3 separate regions of the Homo sapiens genome follow, and regions 1 and 3 are each linked to region 2. The links come from fine-mapping of genetic effects on gene expression. A gene starts in region 2. Each other region holds a variant in brackets. All regions are shown on one strand. Distances are between the middles of the regions. Region 1 has its middle 24 kb from the start of CEP19. Region 2 holds the start of CEP19 (centrosomal protein 19). Region 3 holds the start of PAK2 (p21 (RAC1) activated kinase 2).

What was found.
Region 1: its variant is fine-mapped to the expression of CEP19 in whole blood (TOPMed, PIP above 0.99).
Region 3: its variant is fine-mapped to the expression of CEP19 in neutrophils (Naranbhai 2015, PIP 0.91).

Annotation. Positions count from the first base shown.
Region 1 is chr3:196,684,394-196,692,575 of GRCh38, reverse strand. No RefSeq gene overlaps it. Among named protein-coding and RNA genes, the nearest start is that of CEP19, 24 kb to the left of the region's middle. The variant C/G (reference allele first, on the strand shown) is at 4,092.
Region 2 is chr3:196,708,948-196,717,129 of GRCh38, reverse strand. CEP19 (centrosomal protein 19) reads left to right here and starts at 4,880. Exons shown (of 3, transcript NM_032898.5): 1 at 4,880-5,201. It overlaps PIGX (phosphatidylinositol glycan anchor biosynthesis class X), which reads right to left and starts at 4,753. Exons shown (of 6, transcript NM_017861.4): 1 at 4,486-4,753; 2 at 209-272. The coding sequence starts at 4,597. It also overlaps the pseudogene RNU6-646P. RefSeq lists silencers at 4,354-4,983, 4,818-5,130.
Region 3 is chr3:196,732,928-196,741,109 of GRCh38, reverse strand. It overlaps PIGX (phosphatidylinositol glycan anchor biosynthesis class X), which reads right to left. Exons shown (of 6, transcript NM_017861.4): 6 at 5,103-7,351. The coding sequence ends at 7,208. It overlaps PAK2 (p21 (RAC1) activated kinase 2), which reads right to left and starts at 1,253. Exons shown (of 15, transcript NM_002577.4): 1 at 953-1,253. RefSeq lists a silencer at 673-1,462. The variant AG/G (reference allele first, on the strand shown) is at 4,662.

The sequences.
Region 1 (8,182 bases), 25 kb after region 2:
TGAGACTGCACCACTGCACTCCAGCCTGGGCAACAAGAGCAAAACTCCATCTCAAAAAAAAAAAAAGAAAAGGAAAAGATCTGTATTTTATAATATTTTGAGTGACTGGACTAACACCTACAGGACAAGATATTATGGAGACACAAGTAAAGTCCATGACTTGCATTAAGAAATGCCAACTGCAAGAGCACAGGACAGGAAACAGTTAACCTAAAAACAACGTGAAACAGACAGAGGGCATCCAATTGGCAGCAGTCGCAGTATGAACACTCTGTGGACTGGCTGCCCAGAAAGCTAATGTAAGCCTACGCTACATTAATTGAGGGTTAGTGCTCAGATGGGGGAAAGGTCCTGATCAGATCCTGTCTGGAGCCATGTTTTCTTCCAGGAGCCTCATTTTAAAAGATGTTGACAAACTGGAGTGTGTCCCACAGAGAGTGACCATGTCACATGAGAATCCTTTGCAAGAAGTGATGAGATTTTTGCCTGGAAAAGGCAAAAGTTAAAAGATTGCTCTTAAAGCTCTTTAGTTCTTTACAGATCTTTCACGTAGAAGAATATATTACTACTTCTAGAGGGAAAAACTAGGCACAGTGATTGGAAATTTAGGGAGCAGCTCTCACCTCAAGAAAAGACAGAACTTTCTGGCCAGGCGCGGTGGCTCACGCCTGTAATCTCAGCACTTTGGGAGGCCAAGGAGGGTGGATCACTTGAGGTCAGGAGTTCGAGACTAGCCTGGCCAACATGGTGAAACCCCGTCTCTACTAAAAATCCAAAAATTAGCTGGGCGTGGTTGTGTGCACCTGTAATTCCAGTTACTCGGGAGGCTGAGGCAGGAGAATCACTTGAACCCAGGAGACAGAGGTTGCAGCAAGCCCAGATCACGCCATTGCACACTCTAGCCTGGGGGAAAAGCATAAAACTCCGCCTCAGAAAAAAAAAAAAAAAGAAGAAGAAGAAAAAAGAAAAGACAGAACTCTCTGAAGATCAAAACCGCCAGCAACGGGAAGGGTGACTTTGTGAAGCAGTGACCCCGCTGTCCCTACAGCAGCCCAGCAAGGCACCAGAGAGGTTAACCATTGGCGTTTTTCAAGCTGCCTTCTGTGGAGCAGCATCCTGGGGAGCTAGGGTTGGGGTCGGGTGTAAAAGTGGTCATTGTTCTGAGTGATAAAAAGAATAAGGAGGTGGGAACTGGACTCCTAATTTATCCACAGCAGCTCAATTCTTACATGTTGAAGTTTTTCCCATTTCAGAGTTCTACTTGAGATCTTCATTAAGGGTTCTGCTATGAAAATCAAACCTGCAAACCACCAGAGATGATGGCTTTCTTCGCTATCTCTTTTCTTTTTTGAGATGGAGTCTCGCTCTGTCACCCAGGCTGGAGTGCAATGGCGTGATCTTGGCTTACTGCATCCTCTGCCTCCCGGGTTCAAGCGATTCTCCTGCCTCAGCCTCCCGAGTAGCTGGGATTACAGGTGTGCGCCACCAAGTCTGGCTAATTTTTGTATTTTTAGAAGAGACAGAGTCTCACCACCTTGGCCAGGCTGGTCTTGAACTCCTGACCTCAGGTGATCTGCCCACCTCGGCCTCCCGAAGTGCTGGGATTACAGGTGTGAGCCACCGTGCCCGGCCTCTCCACCGTCTCTGGTGGACACAACACCCCGTCTCTTAGGTGCCTGATTCTCAGACAGGACTCAGGAGCAGAGACCAGATAAATCTCAGATTTGTCTGAGCTTATTTACTTCTGGAGTTTTCTAAATAGCTCTCTCTCTTCCCTGGGGTGGGTTGCTTTTTTTTTTTTTAAGGCAGTTTTTTCAATCTTTTGGGTAGTAGCTCTTGAGTCTGTAAAGCCTGGTAATTTTCTAGAGGTAATTGGCATTAACCATCAAGACTCTCCTCACATGCTCCCTTCCCACTCTGGCACCCTCCTCCCACAGGCCTTCCTCCCGTCCTGCTGCCTCCATCAGTCTCTTCCTCTGGCAGCCAAGGGTTGCCTCTCCAAGTGGTCCCAGGAGAGAAATCCTAGGGCCACGTATCAGTCAGAACACTAGTCCTGGACACCTGTGTTTCTCCTGCCCGCAGGCAGACCCTTCGGGAGACACTTGACCAGCGCAGGCCCTTGGGGGGCAGCTCGCCAGGTAGGACCCCTCCCTGCCAGCTGGGGTTTCCCAGCTCCCCACGCTTGAGTTCTCCTACCTAGAATCTTCTTAGGACTACTTTTAACAGCTGCAGTCCTCTCTGCTTGCTTTACGCCTCCCGAGACTCGTTGTTGCAAAAGTCTTTCTGTGCTAGAGACCCAAACTTTGAATCTCTACTCAAGCTAGTGGTTCTTAGACTTCAGCATGCACCAGACTCATCTGTGGGACTCACGATAGCGCAGATTGCTGCGTTCCACCCCCAGAATTTCTGATTCAGTAAGTCTGGGGTGGAGCCTAAGAATTTGCATTTATTTTCCTTTTTCTTTTTTTAATTTGTTTGAGATAGAGTCTCGCTCTTGTCACCCAGCCTGGAGTGCAGTGGCGCAATCTCAGCTCACTGCAACTCCCACCTCCCAGGTTTAAGCAATTATCCTGTCTCAGCCTCCTGAGTAGCTGGGATTACAGACGTGTGCCACCACGCCTGGCTAATTTTTATATTTTTAGTAGGGACAGGGTTTTGCCGTGTTGGCCAGGCTGGTCTTGAACTCCTGACCTCAGGTGATCCGCCTGCCTTGGCCTCCCAAAGTGCTGGGATTACAGGTGTGAGCCACTGCGCCTGGCCAAGAAATTGCATTTCTAACAAGCCCCCAGACCACACTTTGAGAAGCGCTGTGCGAGGCTTTTGCTTTCCTTCACTGTTGCTGTGGGTATTGGTGTTCCAACCCACAATTCCCTTTTGCTCATACTAGCTTCAGTATATTCCAGTGTCTCTCTGCTTATAGGCTTTTTGTAATAATCTTATTTCTATGGAATTCTGATATACTATGGCCTTTTTTTTTTTTTTTTTGAGACGGAGTCTTGCTCTGTCGCCCAGGCTGGAGTGCAGTGGCACGATCTCTGCTCACTGCAAGCCCCGCCTCCCAGGTTCACGCCATTCTCCTGCCTCAGCCTCCCGAGTAGCTGGGACTACAGGCGCCCGCCACCACGCCCGGCTAATTTCTTGTATTTTTAGTAGAGACGGGGTTTCACCATGTTAGCCAGGATGGTCTCGATCTCCTGACCTCGTGATCCGCCCGCCTTGGCCTCCCAATATACTGTGGCCTTCTATTTTAACTATCCTACGACCACTGGCTCTGTGGGCCAGGGTTTCACCCTCACACAGGTGCTATGCACTTAGAAGGCATTCTTTTTTTTTTTTTTTTTTTTTTTTTCAGATGGAGTTTCGCTCTTGTTGCCCAGGCTGGAGTGCAGTGGCGCCATCTCAGCTCACCACAACCTCCGCCTCCGCCTCCCGGGTTCAAGTGATTCTCCTGCCTCAGCCTCCTGAGTAGCTAGGATTATAGGCACACACCACCACACCCAGCTAATTTTGTATTTTAGTAGAGACAGGGTTTCTCCATGTTGGTCAGGCTGGTCTCGAACTCCCGACCTCAGGTGATCTGCCCGCCTCGGCCTCCCAAAGTGCTGGGATTACAGGCATGAGCCACCGTGCCTGGCCTAGAAGGCATTCTTGCTGAAGAAATTCGGCGGAGGGAAGGATTCATGCAGGCTGGAGCAACAGGGAAAGCTTCACAAAAGGAGTTGGAGTTGAGTGTGTCCTCAAAGGGAGATTTGTCTGTGTAGAAGGGAGAGGAACGAGCATTCCTGACAATGGCTCCTGGACATAGGAGCATTTGTTGGGATGACACGGAGGAACAGACTCTCACTGGAACACACATCTCTTCAATGAGGTGGTGAAATACATCATGGGAAGGAGCCTGTCTGTACCAGAACTCTTACAACCTATTAAGTGCAATTAGCCTCGCTGTAGCCAAAGGGATGTTGATTTTGCTCAGCAGATTGTTATTCAGGATCCCCAGGGACAGTGGTGCTGTGTGGGCAAAGCAGCGTGGGCAGCAGCAGCGTGGGAATGGGTGTGTTCACTCCCGAAGCCCAGGACAGATAACTCCACTT[C/G]TTGTTTCTGTAGAAAGAAGTGTGGCAAGAGCTGACCCGAGGAAGAAGCTTTGCTCAATAGGAAATGAGCTATGATGATGAAATGAGGAAGCCCTGCTGGGCTTCAGCTTGATGGTTCTGAATTATAAAGAGAAAAGAATGTGCAAAAAGCGAATATGATCGTGGAAAACTGGAAACACTCCAAATATCGAAAACTGGAAACACTCCAAATATCCATCAATAAGACATTGGTTAAGTGAATTGCGCAGTGTCCATGCTGCGGCATACTATGAAACCCTTAGGCAGAAGAAGGTAGCACTGGGCATAGTGACCTGGAAATAACTCCTAGCTACATGGTTAAGTGAGGAAAACAAGTTGCCAAATAGTATATTATAATTCTTTGATTTAAAAAATATATCAGTAAAAACTCTTGAATGAGGCCAGGTGCAGTGGCTCACACCTGTGATCCCAGGACTTTGGGAGGCCGAGGCGGGCGGATCACCTGAGGGCAGGAGTTTGAGACCAGCCTAACCAACATGTAGAAACCCCATCTCTACTAAAAATACAAAATTTAGCCGGGCGTGGTGGCGCATGCCTTTAATCCCAGCTACTCGGGAGGCTGAGGCAGGAGAATCGCTTGAGCCTGGGAGGCAGAGGTTGCAGTGAGCCGAGATCACACCATTGCACTCCAGCCTGGGCAACAAGAGCAAAACTCAGTCTCAAAACAAAAACAAAAACAAAACAAAACTCTTGAATGATGTGTGCAAAGTGACTGTTAACAGTTTGCCTGTGGAAAGAGGAGTGGGGTTAAAGTGGGAGATAGAGAGCTTAAGTGACTTTTCATTTTTTATTTTTAAAATTAAATTTCTGAATGGTTTAAATTTTTTCAAACATGCAATTGAAATAAATTCCAGCTAATGTGTACTCAGTGCCAGACACTGCTCTAGGTGTTTTAGGCCTATTATTTAATCCTCCCAACAAACCTCTGGAGATAGGTATTATTAATCTCCCCCATTTTGCAAATTAGAAAACTGAGGGCCGGAGCAGTGAAGCAGCCTGTCCAAGGTCACACACTAATAAGTGGGAGAGTTGAAATTTGAACCCACGTCATGTGGCTCCAGCATCTATGGACTGACCCTCTCACTGCAAGGCCCTCGATGGACCATGTTGGTCCATGGGATGGTAACTGTAACTGTAATAAGATTCCAGTAAAAACCGCACAAAAACTATGTGCATAGAAAAAGCAATGGGAGTCTCTATAGTTGTCCCTTTAAAACATGGATCCAAAGATTCACTCTGAATTCCAGCTCAGACAGGCTAATTCAGGCATGAAATATAGTGATTTCAGAACACAAGGAAAGCCTCACTTCTCCCTCCTACCCCAAACTGTTGGTTAACATTTCTTGAACAAGGACTAACTTTTTACCACCCAAATAGCGATCAAGCTTAATATGTGAATATTTCTGGACAAGGCGTAACTATCTCAAATTTAATTGTGTATATCTCTGATTTAATATTATCAAGGTGTAAATAGCAATCACATACAAAAAGCAGGTTGTGATAAGAGATGGGGAAAAGGCAGGAAGGAGGGACTCAGAGCATGATAGGGTACATATGGGGAAGGCAGACGGCAGCAGACTATCATATACTAGTTATCAATGATACTTCTTTACAGTGATAGAAGCCTTCCCTTTCCTAAGAACTTCCTATGTATTTACACATTTGATCTTGACAACTTATGAACTAGAGAAGACAGATTTCTTCATTTTATTGATAGGGAAAACCAGGCTCCAGGAGGCTGTGACTTGGTAAATTACCAAGTTGGAACCGGAACCCAAAACTCCTGATTCTCCCTCGAGGATTCTTGAATTACACCCAGACACTTCAGCCACATCACAACTTCACCCAGCATTAGGTCTGAGTCAGCATCAGTGTAAGAAAATGTAGCAGACAAAAGCTCCAGAGGTTAAAGGGAGCAATAGGACCCTGGCCAGGACCCACTAAAGGACATCCAGGTGGAAGGACAGAGGAAGAGCCCAGGTCAACATAGGGGATGCCAAGGTCACAGGCTGGGGGAATGGCCCCAGTGCTGACACCAAGCAGCTAGGAAACAGGGCAGAAGTTTTGATTGTGGCATCTATATGCCAGGACTTTGCTCCCACCACTTCTCCCATGCTGCCCCCATTTCTAGAATCTTCCTCCTATTTCTTTCCCTTCATTCTTTGCTTTCCTCTCCCACTCTAGCTCCAAACTCGCATTTGCAGTTGTATAAAGGGGGGAAATACATGAATTTTTAGAAATAAAATTTGTCTTACCAATGGGATTGGAATTGTAATCCCATTCTCTTAAACTCATTTTAAACCCCTACTAAATCTTTGAACCTTTTCTACTTTATCACATGGTTAGAATGGGTGAAGTTCCATTACTCAATTCTTTCATCACTTAATTAAATCCAATTAATCTATTGACTGCTTTGCTCAATCTTTTTTTTTTTTTTTTCCAGACAGAGTCTTGATCTGTCGTCCAGGCTGGAGTGCAGTGGCACAATCTCGGCTCACTGCAACCTCTGCCTCCCGGGTTCAAGCGATTCTCCTGCCTCAGCCTCCCGAGTAGCTGGGATTACAGGCATGTGCCACCACACCCGGCTAAATTTTTTGTACTTTTAATAGAGATGGGTTTCACCATGTTGGCCAGGCTGGTTTCTAACTCCTGACCTCAGGTGATCCGCCTGCCTCGGCCTCCCAAAGTGCTGGGATTACAGGCCTGAGCCACCGCGCCTGGCCAATCTGTTTAATCTTGAATTCTCTTCATATTCTTTCTATGACTAGTGCTACAGCGGTGCTGGATGTTTAAGTGATCTTCAGCTGAATTCCGCATCTCCCATGGCTTTGACTCTGTAGTCACCTCCCCTAAAAGTCATGCTGATGACCTGAAGACATGGACACGCTCCACAATCCATGCGATATAGAGGAGAAGGAAAATAAGAATGAAAACAAATACTAAACACTATCATTCCTCTAGGGTAGGGGTGTCCAATCTTTTTTCTCCCCACATTAAAAGAAGAATTGTCTTGGGCCATACATTAAAAAATACACTAACACTAATGATAGCTGATGAACTAAAAAAAAAAAAAGTCACAAAAAAAAGCTTATCAATTTGTGTTGGGCTGCATTCAAAGCCACCTGGGCCACATGCAGCCCGCGGGCAGCAGGTGGGACAAGCTTGCTCTAGGGTAAGTGGATGACTCCTGGAACTTCCTGCAATGTGTGGTTGGACCACTGATAGTCGTGGGCGGGAGAAAGCACTGAGGAGGCAAGACAATGAGCGATTCGAACGCGGCTGTGCATGACAAGGAAGACACTGCGTGGTTTTTGTTTTACACTTTGCACATTTTATTTTTAGCCTCGCCACTGCCCACATGGTTCTAAAAATTACCACCAGGGGGCAGAAGGGTGCCAATGTCCATTGTCTCTGCTACGTTTGGGTTTTCCTTTCCGAATTTCCTCACAGAAGAATTTCTGATCCTATTATACAGATTAAGAAACCAAGGAGCAGAGTGAAGTAAGTGGTAGGCAATCCAGCATTTTGTGAGTGGCAGTGGCAGGAGTTAAACACTGGTTTGGGTAAATACAAGGACTAGGCACTTTCAGAGCTCACCTGAGTTTAAAAACATTTTACAATCCTCTTTGATTAAATGCAATACATTAAGAAAACTTCAAACAGGCCAGGCGCGGTGGCTCACGCCTGTGATCACAACACTTTGGAAGGCCGAGGCAGGCGGATCACCTGAGGTCAGGAGTTCGAGACCAACCTGGCCACCGTGGTGAAACCCCATCTCTACTAAAAATACAAAAATACGGGCATTGTGGTGAACACCTGTAATCCCAGCCACTCAGGAGGCTGAGGCAGGAGAATCGCTTGAACCCGGGAGATGGAGGTTGCAGTGAGCCGAGATCGCACCACTGCACTCCAGCCTGGGTGACAGAGCAAGACTCCGTCTCAAACAAAAACAAAACACTTCAAACAATGTTACTGTAACTCCTTCTATTTTCCTGTTTTGTGTTTCACTTATCACCAGTTTTTGTCACTCATAGTCTTTTCAGCTCTGTGTC
Region 2 (8,182 bases):
ACAGCGTTTCACTATGTTGGCCAGGCTGGTATCAAACTCCTGACCTTGTGATCCGCCTGCCTCGGCCTCCCAAAGTGTTGGGATTACAGATGAGAGCCACCGCATCTGGCCTGATTTTTCAATTTATACAAATTTCAACCATCAATTTTTTGCTCTCAATTATATGACACATTATTTTAATAGAAATAGAAATCAACAGGCAACTTACCTGTGGAAACCATCTTTCAAAACTTCTTGCCTCAAAATAATTTCAGAACACATGGCCCTTATGCCTATAAGAACCAAACGATTTTTTTTTAAAAACAAAAGCACTGAATAAAATAATATTTAAATAATTATAAAAGAGTTATTTTAGTAGGCTTTACTTGCCTAGAAAATCTAACCAACCTAAAAACAAAACCTTTTAAAATTTAAGCAATTTGAAATATATATATAAATCTACTTCCAATATAGCACTGTGGTTAAGAACAGTGACTCTGGAGTTAGATTGCCTGATTTCAAATCCCAGTCTGTAACTTAACAGCTGTGTTAACTTTGGGCAAGATAGTTTATCTCTCTACTAGCTGTCGTAAGAATTTAATGTAAGTAGAAGCACTTAGAACAGTAGTAAGAATACATATTAAGTGTTCTATGTAAGTGTTTTTTATTAATATTACTTTATTCAGGTGATCCCAAGATACCAAAAAGGAACAGGATGGCTAAAGAGCCAGGAAATCTCCATTTTAATCCTTGTTCACTGAAACTGTGTATCAGATAGATACATACTGGCAACTTCTATATTCTAACATCCATGCCTACAAAACCAGGAAAATGGTACATTTATGCCTTGTGGAGATGCTGGAAGGTTTAAAAAAAAAACAAAAAGCAAAGCTGGAGGCACGTAAAGGTTCAACGGGTTCCACTGTAAACTTAGAATAAGCACAAATCTCAGTATACTGACTTCATCCAGATTCCAGACACTCAAGCTGTTACTCTGAGCCAGGTGTGCCAGCTCGCACTTGAGGTGGGAGGATTGCTTGAACCCAGGGGATGGGGGCTTCAGTGAGCTATGATTATACCACTGCACTCAAGCCTGGGTGACAGAGAGAGACCTTGTCTCTAAACACAAAAAAAGAAAACTATTACTCAATGTAAGCATCTTAAAACTGAAAATTCAGTTACTATTGACCAGCAACTCTGCCAGGCATTTGCTATGGAACTTTGTCCCATTTCAAAAGCTGTAAATCTGTGGGAAGAACATTTAAAAAACACACACAAGCCTGGACAACATAGCAAGACTCCATCTCCATTAAGAAAAATACAAAAATTAGCTACTTAGGAGGCTGAGGTGGGAGCATGGCTTGAGGCCAGGAGGCAGAGGGAGGCTGCAGTGAGCAGAGACTGCACCACTGCACTCCAGCCTGGGTGACAAAGCCAGACCTTGTCTCAAAACAAACAAACAAACCCCAAACACATACAGAAAACTATATATTATTTACATAATCCTGTTATTATCATTGAATATTGCTGAATCCATTAGATGTATTTCTGAAAAGATGCATTAAGAAAAATGATGTGAAGGTGAAACTATTTGAAGGAATGAAAAAAGAATAGAAAAAAATAACTGGTTAAATAATATCTAACATGCTAGATCCTCTACTTGGTGCTTTCATATGTGTTTTAACTTTCACGATCTATAGCAAAATAAGCAAAATCACTGCCATTTGTTTGCAGGAGGAAACTTGAACTTCTAAAGCATTAGTAAATGGCCCTGGGTCATACAACTAACTACGTGACCGATTAGAAGAAAGGTTTGCCTGATTTTTAAAGCCTAAGATACTTCCACTTTCAACACTAAAATTGAATGAAATTTTAGTGTTACAGCTCTTCGAGAATTTGTCTAGTTACATTTCACTGAAAAATCTCCAGCCCTCAAAAAAGAAATTGTATTTGCTTTGGAGAAGCATATGATCTTTTCCTGAATAAACAAATCCCCAAATTCCATATGTATCTTGTACCAATCCAGATTTTTATTTGTTCTTTTTTTATTTTTATTTATTTATTTATTTATTTTTTGAGACGGAGTCTCACTCTGTTGCCAGGCTGCACTGCAGTTGCACGATCTTGGCTCACTGCAACCTCTGCCTCCCAGGTTCAAGCAATTCTCCTGCCTCAGCCTCCAGAGTAGCTGGGACTACAGGCACGCGCCACTACGCCCGGCTAATTCTTGTATTTTTAGTAGAGATGGAGTTTCACCACGTTGGCCAGGCTGGTCTCGATCTCCTGACCTGGTGATCTGCCCACCCTGGCCTTCCAAAATGCTGGGATTACAGGCATGGGCCACAGCGCCCAGCCGAGCAAGGCTCTGCCTCTTAAAAAAAAGAACAAATAGCCTGGGTGCAGTGACTCATGCCTGTAATCCCAGCACTTTGGGAGGGGGAGGCAGGCAGATCACAAGGTCAACAGTTTAAGACCAACCTGGCCAACATGGTGAAACCCCGTCTTTACTAAAATACAAAAAATTAGCCGGGCGTCGTGGTGTGCACCTGTAGTTCCCGCTACTTGGGAGGCTGAGGCAGGAGAATCGCTTGAACCTGGGAGGTGAAGGTTGCAATAAGCCGAGATTGCGCCACTGCACTAGCCTGGCAAGAGAGCAAGACTCCGTCTCAAAAAAAAAAAAAAAAAAAGAGACAGGGCCTTACTCTGTCACACAAGCTGGAATGCAGTGGCATGATCACAGCTCACTGCAGCCTTGAACTTCTGAGCTCAAGCAATCCTCCCACATCGGCCTCCCAAGTAGCTAGGATTATAGGCCCACGCCACCACACCTGGCTACTTTTAAATTTTTTTGCAGAGACAGGGTCTTGCTATGTTTTCCAGGCTGGTCTTGAACTCTTGGCCTCAAGCAATCCTTCCACCTCAGCCTCCCAATGTGTTAGAATTTCAGGTGTGAGCCACTGTGCCCAGCACAAATCCAGATCTTTCTTCATCCTGTTTAATTTTAATGGGGGTAGGGTGGGAAGTGAGGACTGCTATCCAACTATAAATTAAATTAGAAGAAAAATTATGAACAGGCTTAAATTCTACTGGTATGTACACCAGACAGCAGTTGATCATTGGGACCGGAGAAAGGCTAATTTACAAATAGTACAGCAAATACTAGAATGTCATGATTTTAAAGGCAAAAGTACCATTTTTAAAACGAATTTGTTGAATGTGAATTTACCTTCAACATTTTTCCTCTTAACTATTACTTTGGTAGTGGTGAACTGGCTCTGGAAATTGACTTCTTTTTCCTTTTTTTTTTTTTTTTTGAGACAGAGTCTCCCTCTGTCACCCAGGCTGGAGTGCAATGGCGCGATCTCGGCTCACTGCAACCTCCGCCTCCCTAGTTCAAGCGATTCTCCTGCCTTAGCCCCCTGAGTAGCTGGGACTACAGGGGCACGCCATCACGCCCCGCTAATTTTGACCCCTTTTCAATTATAAAATGCTAACGTTGGAAGCCTCTACAGATTACCAAATCCAACTGTTTAAAAATTCTTCTGGCCGAGCATGGTAGTTCACACCTGTAATCCTGGCACTTTGGGAGGCTGAGGAGGGTGGACCACCTGAGGTCAGGAGTTCAAGACCAGCTTGACCAATACGGCGAAACCCCGTCTCTACTAAAAATACAAAAAATTAGCTGGGCATGGTGGCGGGCACCTGTAATAATCCCAGCTACTTGGGAGGCTGAAGCAGAAGAATTGCTTGAACTTGGGAAAGGCGGAGGTTGCAGTGAGCCGAGATCGCGCCATTGCACTCCAGCCTGGCAACAGAGTGAGACTCCATCTCAAAAAAAAAATCTTCTTGGCCTCATAATCCTTTGTTTAGATAAACTTGAAAACCCAATATGTAAACACACAAGCAGAACTGCACTGATTGACAGATACTAAACGGATCTAAATGATACCAAGGATGACAGAAACATCCTCATTTTACAGATGGAGAAACTTGTAGGGTTTGTGCTTTCCTCCCATCAAACCTTACCCTTTATTGTAATTATTCCCGCACTTGCCCGTCTCAGTAGTACAAGCAGTTTGCCAACTACTACTTGCACGAACAACTAGCAGTTTGCCACGGAGTCCTACATTCAGTTTGGGGATTCTCAGGCCTCACAGGGCGCTAAGGCCTTGCCTGGCCCCTTGGTGATCAGAAGCTTCGTGCAGCTCAAGAGCATCCCAAGACGCTTGACGGCTGACTTTCCTTCTCAGAACTTTAGTAACAGGGCGGCCAGTCCAGCCTGGGAACCGCAGGGCCCGAGCCCGACTCTCCCGGAGACCCGGGATCCGCCGCAGAGCAAAGCGCACGGGAGGGAAGGAGGGCACACGGCTCTAGTGTCTGACCTCCTCCGGCTCGCCCTACTGATCTAGGTCCCGCGCCGGGTCCCCACATCCCCGCAACCCGCCGAGAGGCCCGGGAGCCGGGACCGCTCCCACGCTCTGGCCCCCCAAGCCCCGCCCCCCTTACCGGCGTCAGAGCGCGCGGCGGTGAAGGCCGCGGCGGGCCCGCGCGTGAGCCCGGTCGCCGCCCCGAGGAGCAGCCAGGCGGCCGCCCGAACCGCCGCCACCCGAGCCGCCAGGACGCCGGAAGCCGGACGCCCGAGAGGGGCGCGCGGGGCCAGGTGCGGACGCAGGAAGGGGCCTGGCCGCCCGCAGCTCCTACCGCGCGCTGCCCCAGATTTATCGGCTGGGACCGAGTGCTGGGTGCGCGCGCCTAGCGCCCGCGGTTCCCAGCTGCCTGCAGCCCCGGCCCCCAAGGGTTCCCGCGCGGCGTGGGGCGGTCGTCCCCGCCCAGCTGTTCCTTGCTCCGCCCACCCGGGGGCGGGCGAGGAGCTGCGCACGCGCGGGGACGCGCGCCCGGCCTGTCGCTGTGGAAACCGCTAGGCCAGCGCTCGCCGGGACCTGGAATCCCTGTACGCCGAGGTGGGAGCCGGTGGACCGGTCCCCCAGCCGGCCCCCACCTCCGCTTCCCGGTGTTTGAGGGTTCGGGCCTCCCGCCGGGGAGTTCACCCCTCGGGCTCGTCAGTAGGGCTGTGGCTGTCGCCTCTTCCTGCAGCGCCAGGCTCCGCCCGGTCTCACAGTCGGCTTAGGGGCTTTGCGTGCACTGCGGTTGGGTGGAAAAACCCACTCCTGGTTGTTTAGACGTTGGCCTGCAGACGATGTCATTTCTGTATTCCTCTAAGGGTAAGAAAGCCAGCCTTGCACTAGTGGAGACGTGAGTAGGGAGAGAATCGTCTACTCTTTGGGGACATTCGTACCCTTAGGTGCTGTGGGGCTTCCTAACAAGATTGTGGGCAGTTACTGATCTCTGGGGAGAGGAGTATTCGTGTCCAGGAAGAATAATTGGATAAACGTGCCGTCCTTCTTCCTAAACAGAGTGGAATCTGTAAGCAGGCCAAGAGAGCATCCAGGCGGCTTGGAGTGGAATAGAGGGCTCTAGAGCGGGTGTCTCAAAGAGGAAACAGAGTGTATGTCAAAACATACTATCCAAAACTGAAAATAGCCGGGCAGGTGGCTCACGCCTATAGCCCCAGCACTTTGGGCGAATCACCTGAGGTCAGGAGTTCGAGACCAGCCTGGCCAAGATGGCGAAACCCCGTCTCTACTGAAAATACAAAGATTAGCTGGGCATGGTGGTAGGCACCTGTAATTCCAGCTACTCGGGAGGCTGAGGCACGAGAATCGCTTGAACCCAGGAGGCGGAGGTTGCAGCGAGGGGAGATCACGCCACTGCACTGCAGCCTAGGCGACAGAGGGAGACTCTGTTTCAAAAGAAAAAAAAAAACTGAAAATGGTAGTATAAGCATGTTTCTTAAGAAATGGAGAGAGAAATTTTGGAAGATATGCCTTTTAAAATTCAGTCTGGCTCCCTATGAAGAGGAGTAGGGCCAAGGACGATAGTTTGTTGTTATAAGCCTCATAGAATTATTTTATATTCCAAATACAAACATTACTTTAGCAAAAATTAAAGTTAAATTTTAAAAAGAGTCTAGTAAAAAAAAAACTACATTATTTGAGTACCAACTGCATACATCTTTGACGAGTACAGCCATTGCTTCAGTGTGTGGAGTTTATATGTGCCCCGTAGGTTGTAGTTTACTAACATCAAATTTTAGTTAGGTGAATTGGGAATAGTATTCGTTAAAAAAAAAAAAAAAGCAAGAAAAGAGAAGGAAAAGAAGGAGAAATGGTGTGAGCTCATTGCATCAGATTAGAGGTAGAGCACAGTAATTTTTTAAAGTAGTTTTTTTTTTTTTTTTTTTTTTTTTTAAGAATAGGCGTATCATGCTTTGGAGAGGCTGTTGTGCAGTGGCACCATCTCAACTCACTGCAGCCCCAAACTCCTGGGTTCAGGCGATTCTCCCACCTTGGCCTTTGGTGTGGCTGGGACTACAGGTGCATGCTGCCATGCCTGGCCAATTTTTAAATTTTTTGTAGAGACATGCATGGTCTCGCTGTGTTGCCCAGGCTGGTCTCAAACTCCTGGCCTCAAGGTATCTCCTCTCCTTGGCCTCCCAAAGTGTTGGGATTACAGGCCTGAGCCACCACACCTGCCTCCATCTTTTTGAGATGGAGTCTTGCTCTTGTCACCCATGCTGGAGTGCAGTGGTACCATCTCAGCTCACTGCAACCTCCGCCTCCCAGGTTCAAGTGATTCTCCTGCCTTGGCCTCTCGAGTAGCTGGGATTACAGGCACCTGCCACTATGTCCAGCTAATTTTTGTATTTTTAGTACAGACGTGGTTTTCACCATGTTGGCCAGGCTGGTCTCGAACTCCTGACCTCAAATGATCTGCCCACCTTGACCTCCCAAAGTGCTGGCTGGGGTGAGCCACTGTGCCTGGGCTTATATGTGATTAATTTTCTAAGAGTAAAAATTCTCATGCCCAACAATAAGTGGTGAATAATATGATTATAGTACATCCATAAAATAAAACATTTAGCAGTCATATAAAATGTTACATTGTAGTAAAACATTTGATGACAAAATAATAATATATGTTGTTAAATTTGAACGTCAGGAAATAGCTTGTATGATAAGGTATGTATGAAACATACTATAAACTATATGCCTAGAAAAAAGACTGGACACAATCAAGGGTGATTATTTTCTATAGGTTTCCCCTCTCCTTTGCCCCCAGTATTCTACAATGACGTGTATAATCACTGCTAAGTATTTAATAAAAAGTATGTTCCTAATAGTGATTCTCCAGCAGAACTGAGTTCACGAAGATATCATCACCCTATGCCACTTTACCTCAATGTTTCTTGACATTTACAAATCTTTCTGGGAATGTCACAGTCACATCAAAAGCAGTGCTTAGGGTTAAGTGTATTCTTTGGGCACTGAGGGTGGGGAAAGGAAGAGAGAATAGTAAGTATTCATCTACAAATAGCTGTTTCTTGTAGCTAGAAAATTATCATATAGTGAGACACACAGGCCAAAATAAAAGCCCTGCAGACATTACTGACTATTGTATATGAAGAAGCTGAGATATGTGATGTATATGATGTAGCTGCAGACGTTACTGACGTGTATATGAAGAAGCTGATTCTGCAGCAGGTCTGCTTTTTGATCAGGCTTCTAGACTGTAAATGCTTTCAAAAATGTACAGGGACCATCATGTTAATTCATAGCATTAAACAATGTATGGAATGCCCACTACGTTCCAGGTATTATGCTGAGATATTGTGGTGGAAAATGAATATGCCCCCCACCCTCATGGAGCATATTGACTAGAAGGGAAGATAGATGATTAAATAAATAATGACAAAAAACTCTAGTAAAATAATTGGGAAAGTACAAAGGAGACAGTTCTGGATTGGTGAACCTCTCAGGACAAAATGATTAAGGTTAAAAAACTTACCTTATCATAGTACCTTGATACCGAGGATGCTCGATATGCCCTTTCTTAATTGATAAATAGTAAAGACCCTATAGGTCAGCTATTGGGCTGACTTAGGGGTTCATATTCGATCTTCAGTAAGAGTGCAGTACACTAAGAGGTTCAAACTGGATTGCATCCCCAGATTCACATATGAACAAGTCTATATCCTTGAAAAAACCAGATCTTAGGGATCCAACAGGTTGAAACTAACCCAGGGCCAAGCTGAACTTTCAGGGCAGTTCTCAAAATAACTGAGCTTTGTGGTCGTTCCCGCGCA
Region 3 (8,182 bases), 24 kb before region 2:
AAAAAAGAAAACAAAGAAAGGACACATCGCCTGTAACGCAGAAGTGAGATAATGATATCAACCGGAGTTCGTTATTTATCAAGGGACAACAAATCACGCTCACACTGCCCAGGGAGAGTACTACTAAAATTAAGATACAAGGATGGGTACAACCTCACACCCACTGACGATGACACGCTTCTGTTCTTGGATGACTTATCTTTAAAGAATTAGTTAAAAGGTTGAGTGGCAACGTTTTGTGTTTGTGCGTGCGTGTGTTTCCAAGAGAGCCAAACATGGTGAAAAACCAATCTTAACTTCACCTAAGTTATCTAAAGAAGCAAATTTCACCCCTAGGCTGAAGCTCAAACAGGAGCGAGGAGAAGCTCCGAAAGATCAGTTCGTAAGCGGTGGCCCTCAAGCGCCCGGGACGCTCTACGTTTTTACCAATGTGGAATGTGGAAAAGAGGTTACAGGCTGGAGCTGAGAAAACAGTCAAGCTACTCGCGACAATATTCCTGAGCAGTGAAACGGGTGAACAGAGAGCGAGCAAGCAGGGGCTGAGAATCAGTGAGAGGAAAAATCAAGGAACAAAACCGGAGAGTCTGGTCCAGCATTAAGAAAACGGAGCAAAGGAAGAGGGTGAAACGCGAGGGGAGGGAAGACCGAGAGTCGGCAGAGACCGTGGTGCCGCGAGGTTCAGAGCAGGGCTGGGTCCAGGAAGAGTCAGACCTCCGCAGCCCAGCGAGCTTCCCATTTCTGGCTAAAGCCAGCGAAGAAAACGGCCCTGGGGAGCAGACAATGAGCCACCGCCCCAGGAGCTGCGGCTCCCAGCACGCAGGTGGCGGCTCCCCGGCCCCGCGCGGGGCAGGTCGGCCGTCCCGGGCCGCTCCCGCCCGCCAGGCCACGGAGAAGGAAGGAGGAGGAAGAGACCCGGCCTGCGTCCCGCGCCGGCCGGCCTGTGTGCACTTACCCCGGGCAAGGCAAGGTCCCCGCCCCAGCGAGGCGCCTCGGTCAGAGCTCCCGGCGGGCTGCGGAGCCGCCCCGGGCTAGCGCGCGGTGCGGGGAGGGGAGGGGAGGGAAGGGGAAGCGGGGCGGGAAGAGACGCCGCGCTGGAGCAGCCGCTGCTACCGCTAGGCCCAGCGGCGGCGGAGTCCTGCGCACGCCAGGGAGGGGAGGGGAGGGAGCCTTCGGCAATGGCGACGGCCCGGGCCGGAGGGGAAGCGGAACAACCGCCGCCGCTGCGCGTGGCCACAACCCTGGGGGAGGAAGACGGCGGGGAGCGGGGCGGGGCGGGGCCAGAACCCAGAACCCCTCCCGCCCCGAAGCCGGAGCTCCCCGGGGCGGAGACGAGCGCCACCTCCCATGGGCAGGCCCGCGCGGGGGCCGCTGGGAGTAGTAGTTCGGTGATAGACGTTGCTTTTATTCCTTGGGTAGTCTTTGTATTGAGAGGAGCAGCCAGTCCCTCATTTAATTCAGCATTGTCTCCAAGCAGGTCTCTGCCGACGGAAGACGCTGACAGACGATTGCTGTTATACACATCTGCTCCGCGACATTTGTTTCTGGGAATTCATCCGTTATCCATTTTGCTTTTTTGCTTACAAATTCTTAACTAAAATTTTGCTGCTAAATTAAGTATCACCTCCTTGCAAATTAAGACTTCCCTATTTTATCCACGGAGGAGTTCATCAATGTTTCACTTATTCTACAAATATTTGAGTGTCTGATATGGACTAGACACTGTTAAGCATCAGAAATACAAGGGTGGTTCAGGTGCGGTGGCTCACGCCTGTAATCCCAGCACTTTGGGAGGCTGAGGCAGGCGGATCACCTGAGGTCGGGAGTTCGAGACCAGCCTGGCCAACACGATGAAACCCCGTTTCTACTAAAAATACAAAAATTAGCTGGGCATGGTGGCACGCATCTGTAGTCCCAGCTACTCGGGAGACTAAGGCAGGAGAATCGCTTGAACCCAGGAGGAGGAGGCTGCAGTGAGCCAAGATCGGGCCACTGCACTTCAGCGTGACAGAGTCGTCATGCCTCAAAAACAAAACAAAAAACACAAAAGAAATGCAAGGGTGAACACGATTCACCAAGCCTTTGTGGAGCTTATATGAGGACGCAGTAATTAAAGTAGTCACACCTGGTATAAGAAAAAACTTGGCGAGGTTACTTTGGATAGGGTGGTCGGAGAAGGCCTCGTTAAGGAGGTGACACTTAAGGCAAGAACAGAAAGAGACAGCAATAAGAAGCACCCAGAGAAAAGCAATACAGGCAGGAGAAGAAAGAAAAGGGCTTGCTACGGTCAGTTAAGAAGGCCTGTGTAGCTGGGGCCTAGAACAAGAAGGCGGTACTATTAAGAAAACACTACAGCAGACAAGATTCAGGTCATGAAAGATCCTGAATGCCATGGTAAAAAGTCTATATTACAAAAAACCATTAAAAGGCTTTTTTAAGCAGGAAAGCGATGTTACCTGGCTTACACTTTAAGATCACTAGACTGCAATGTGGATAATGGAGTATAGAGATGCAAGAATAGAAGGGAAATAAAGTAGGAAGGCAGTGGAAAGAAAGAGGAATTGTGCTTCTCTATCAATGTAGAGCAAAAAACTCAATTGATGCAGTGGGTACAGGAGAGAAAGGAATCAAGGAGCAACATGGCACAGTAAGAGATAACCTGAAAAATGCTCTGATTATTAAACACACAGAAACACTGGATAAATAAGACATCCTTTCAAAGGCATAACTTGCAAGAATGAAAATAGAATGTTTCTGACAGTCTTCCAAATTTCACACTCAACCTGAAGAAGGGGCAGGACACCAGAGTGGTAAGCAGGGCAGTGAAGCCATGGTTGTGTTGAGGGCACCTACTTATCTCAGAAATCTCTAGAGTTTTAATAGGTGCACAGGAAACTAAAGACAAGGACTTGGGCCTATACAAGAAGTCAGGACTGTGATCCTGCATAGGACTGGAAATTCAAGGCGCTATACCCTCCAAGAACAGACTGGGGGGAAAAAAAACCCTATGCTAGCCCAGGGAGACACACAGGACATTTGTTTACTTTGGCCTGCAGTGGGCTTGCAGGGCAGAAGAAAATTTTCCCTTTAGAATTAATAACCCTTTAGAATTTTCCCTCACTAAGGTTTTAAAGTTCAAATTTGTCAAGAAAGTGGTCCCAGGCTGGAGTTCTGGGGGGCCTGGAAGAAACAAATACAAATCCTGACTGCACAGGTGTACCCTCAACCTCGGTCTCAAAGGATTTCACAGATAAACAGGATTTCCGAAGCCAAACATGAGCACCCGAAATACAATACACCTGAGGAAATAAGCAGCGATGAGTGAGTCAATAGAAACTACAAAGAACATAATGAAACCCACACAGACTTTAGCTGCTGGAATTGATGGCTACAGAATATACAGTACGCCTATTTAAATGATTAAAGAAAGTAAGACAGGAGCTAGAAAACACGAGCAAGAAACAAGATGCTTTTTTTTTTTAACGACCAAACAGCTTTGAAAATGAAATAAGTAGGCCAGGCGCGGTGGCTCACACCTGTAATCCCAGCAGTTTGGGAGGCCGAGGTGGGCAGATCACCCGAGGTCAGGAGTTCGAGACCAGCCTGGCCAACATGGTGAAACCCCAGTCTCTACTAAAAATGCAAAAATTAGCCAGGCGTGGTGGTGGGCACCTGTAGTCCCACCTACTCAGGAGGCTGAGGCAGGAGAATCACTTGAACCTGGGAGGTGGAGGTTGCAGTAAGCCAAGAACATGCCATTGCACTCCAGCCTGGGCAACAAGAGCAAAACTCCGTCTCAAAACAAAAACAACAACAACAAAAGAATTAAGTAGAATTTCTAGAAACAAAGAATAACTGAAACCAAAGCCAATGTTTGGTTAAATAGCAGATTACACACAATTGAAGAGAAAATTAGTAAACTGGAAGACAGACCAAAAGAAATTACTGAGAACAGCCTAGAGACAGGAAAAATGAAAGCAAGCTTAAGAGACATGGGGATAGATTGTTAAGGTCTCTACCATACTCCTAATGAGAATTCCAGGAGAGAAAAGAGAAAAACCAAGAGAGGCAGATAATGATGAGATAATGGCTGAAAAATTTCCAGAATTGATTAAAGACAGGAATCTTCAGATTCAGGAAGCAAACTGAATACCAAGCAGGATAAGTAAAGAAATTTCAAACACATGAAAATGAAACCGCAGAATACCAGAGATAAAGCAACCAGAGAGAAAAGACATTCTGTACAAACAACTATTACATTCATAGCAGATTTCACAACAGCAAAACGGGTGCCAGTCAATAATGGTATATTTTCAAAGTACCAAGAGAAAATAACCAAGCTTAGAAGTGTACAGCTACCGGCTGGGCACAGTGGCTCACACCTGTAATCCCAGCACTTTAGGAGGCTGAGGTGGGCAGATCACCTGAGATCAGGAGTTCAAGACCAGCCTGGCCAACAACGGCAAAACCCTGTCTCTGCTAAAAATATAAAAAATAGCAGGGTGTGGTGGTGTGCGCCTGTAGTCCCAGCTACTTGGTAGGCTGAGGCAGGAGAATCACTTGAACCCAGGAAGCAGAGGTTGCAGTGAGCAGGGATCACACCACTGCACTCCAGCCTGGACGACAGAGCAAGACTCTGTCTCAAAAAAAAAAAAAAAAAAAAA[AG/G]TGTACAACTACCTAAATTATCCATCAGATGAGTGAGGATGAAATAAATATATCATCAAACATAAACAAGCTACCAACAGAGACACACTAAAGGAACTCCTTAAAAGGTATATTTCTTTCTTTTTCTTTCCCTTTTTTTTTTTTTTTTGTGACGGAGTCTCACTCTGTCGCCCAGGCTGGGGTGCAGTGGTACGATCTCGGCTCACTGCAACCTCTGCCTCCCGGGTTCAAGTGATTCTCCTGCCTCGGCCTCCCGAGTAGCTGGGATTACAGCCGCATGCCACCACTCCCGGCTAATTTTTTGTATTTTTAGTAGAGATGGGGTTTCACCATGTTGGCCATGTTTACAAGATAATACAAACAAAACCAGAAATGTTCTGTTATACTAAAAGTGATGTCATCTGCAACCATTTATCTAAGCAAGAAGAGTTATATCAAAGTTTTCTTCATTCACATTTTTATTACACTTCTGAATATTTGTATAAGTGAGTAAATGGCTGAACCACATTCCAAGCCACAATCTTAAATATTTTAAATACTGATGAAACCTGGTTGTGATGAGCAAAAACAAAAACATTCTGTATACACATACCCCCACATACTCTTAAGATGTTAAACAGTACCGTGTTCCCTCCCCGTCTAACCATATTCCAAAACGTTGCCTGTCAATCTAACCATATCCCAAAACAATGCCTGAATTGTAGCTGACATATATAATTCCATTTCAGTGTCATATTATTAATCCCATAGTGAAAGAAATGTTTCTAAAACATGAAATTCTTTCTTACGAGAAAGCATGAAATAGGTATGAAACTATACTGGGTTGAAATTTTAGTCATTTTAAAGGTCACTGTTTCTGCTTTATGGCACTGGGTTACCTTTTCCAATATTTAAGTCTCAAATACACGTTTAAAAAGAACTGTTAGGACTAGTCAGGTCATACATGTCAAATTATACAAGATGTAGTCCCATGAAAACACCAAAATACTTTAGGAAATGGAGCAGTGATGGCATATACAAAGGTTTATCACATCTCAATACTCTACATAAAATAAATAATGCCAACACACCCTGGTTTGATGTCTTCTGTTTTGGAACATGCTTGCCCTAAGGTTTTATTTACTTTTTTTTTTTTTTTTTTTTTTTTTTTTTTGAGACAGAGTCTCACTCTGTCGCCCAGGCTGGAGTGCAGTGGCGTGATCTCGGCTCACTGCAAGCTCTGCCTTCCGGGTTCATGCCATTCTCCTGCCTCAGCCTCCCGAGTAGCTGGGACTACAGGTATGCACCACCATACCCGGCTCATTTTTTTGTATTTTTAGTAGAGATGGGGTTTCACCGTGTTAGCCAGGATGGTCTCAATCTCCTGACCTCGTGATCTGCCCGTCTCGGCCTCCCAAAGTGCTGGGATTATAGGCGTAAGCCACCGCGCCCGGCCAAGGTTTTATTTTTTAATTAGCCTATGGCACTTACTTTATTTTCTAATTTTTTTCCAATCATAACAGTAAATGAAGAACCTTTGTTTAAAAAAATTACCTGATGATTCCAATTATTGTTCATGTACAACTTTATTTAAAATGGCAATCTGAGTTGTCTTCCTGACATACTCTGTACCAAATCTTAGTACTCAGTTTCATCAAGTCCTTTGCCAATTCATATATTCAAAAGAAACATGATAAAATGTAAAAGGAGAATGGAGTGCGTTAAGGAATAATCAATAATTTAAGATTATCAATAATTTTGATATTAATATTAATTTCTTAGCTGTCCTACTTTAATGATTTTCATTGAAACTCTGGCACATCTTTAATAGTCTCATGACATTACTATTTAAATAAACATGATTTTCATCCAAATTATTTTATTCTTCTTTTTTGTTTTTCCTTTGGAGACAGGGTCTCGTTCTGTCGCCCAGGCTGTAGTGCAGTGGTGCGATCTTGGCTCTCTGGAACCTCCGCCTCCCAGGTTCAAGCGATCCTCCCGCCTCACCCTTCCAATTAGCTGGGACTACAGATGCCCACCACCAGCCCCAGCTAACTTTTGTATTTTTAGTAGAGACAGGGTTTCACCAAGCTGGTCTCAAACTCTTGACCTCTGGTGATCCGCCCACCTCGGCCTCCCAAAGTGCTGGGATTACAGGTGTGAGCCACTGTGCCTGGCCTATTTTATTCTTATTTATAACGGTTTTCTCAATTTGTAGCTTAAATTGAAAGTACTTGCAAAATGAGAATAATTTGTCTCTACTACATAAAGAAATAATTTTTCTACCCCAAATGAAGATAAAGTCACTTCTCACAAAATAAACATTAATTTAGCAGAATTAAGTTTCCCCTTATGGCATCTGATGCTTGAGGATTACCAAGGATCCATGCAATAGAGCACTACATTTTGGAATTAGCTGAGAATGATCCCAAATTTCCTCTAGTAAACATAATTTTGGCCACAAATGAAGACAAAAGATAAAAGTAATTAATTCTAGAAGAACACCTCTCGTCAGAAATTAATAGATCTTATTTAGGTTTCTAGGAAGCATTTAACTACATAAAACTTATAGGGAAAAATGGCCATATTTGAAAACTGCTACAAGGATCAATGTAGAGCACAGGATTGTAATGAGCAGAGTCACAGAACATACTAGAGAGGTATGTACAGTCAGTCCCACTGGAACTTGTAGAATCACATTCTTATATACCTATGGAGAGAGAGAGAGAAGTTAGACATTGAAAATGCATGTCATGGGCCCGGTGTGGTAGCTCATGCCTGTAATCCCAGCACTTCGGGAGGCCAAGGCGGGCAGATCGCTTGAGGTCAGGAGTTCAAAACCAGCCTGGCCAACATCTCTACTAAACCATCTCTACTAAAAATACAAAAATTAGCCAGGTGTGGTGGCAGGTGCCTGTAGTCCCAGCTACTAGGGAGGCTAAGACAGAACAATCACTTGAACCCGGGAGGCGGAGGTTTGCAGTGAGCTGAGATCGTGCCACTGTACTCCAGCCTGGGAGACAGAGGAAGACTCTGTCTCAAATAAATAAATAAATAAATAAAAATAGTAAAATAAAATAAATGTCATAAGGTGAGACCACTATTTCTTTGATTTTTAATTGGATATTTTTATTTCCTTTTTCTTTTAAATATATTTCAGCCAGTGCTACACTACATGTAATATTATTGGTTTGAATGACTTTTGAATCTAACATTTCATTTAATGTTACAGAATCAGACTCAATTCCCACAATAATTTGTTAAATCTCATTAGTTCTGATTTTTCTGCTTTTTACATAAAGTATATTATTTTAAGAAAAGCTATATCCCAGTGTCACCTCTGTAATCAATATAAACATTTACTTCCTCTTACCATGTTTCAAATTAGAATACAGAATTCTCTCTAAATTGAAGACTTAGAGGAAAAACATTAAAACAACAAAAAACTAAATTATTCTTTCATTCCCATTTGCCTTTCTCTCCCCAGATAGCTTTTAAAGCCTTGTTATTCCCATATTGTACAGCTGGATGTGGCCTTTAC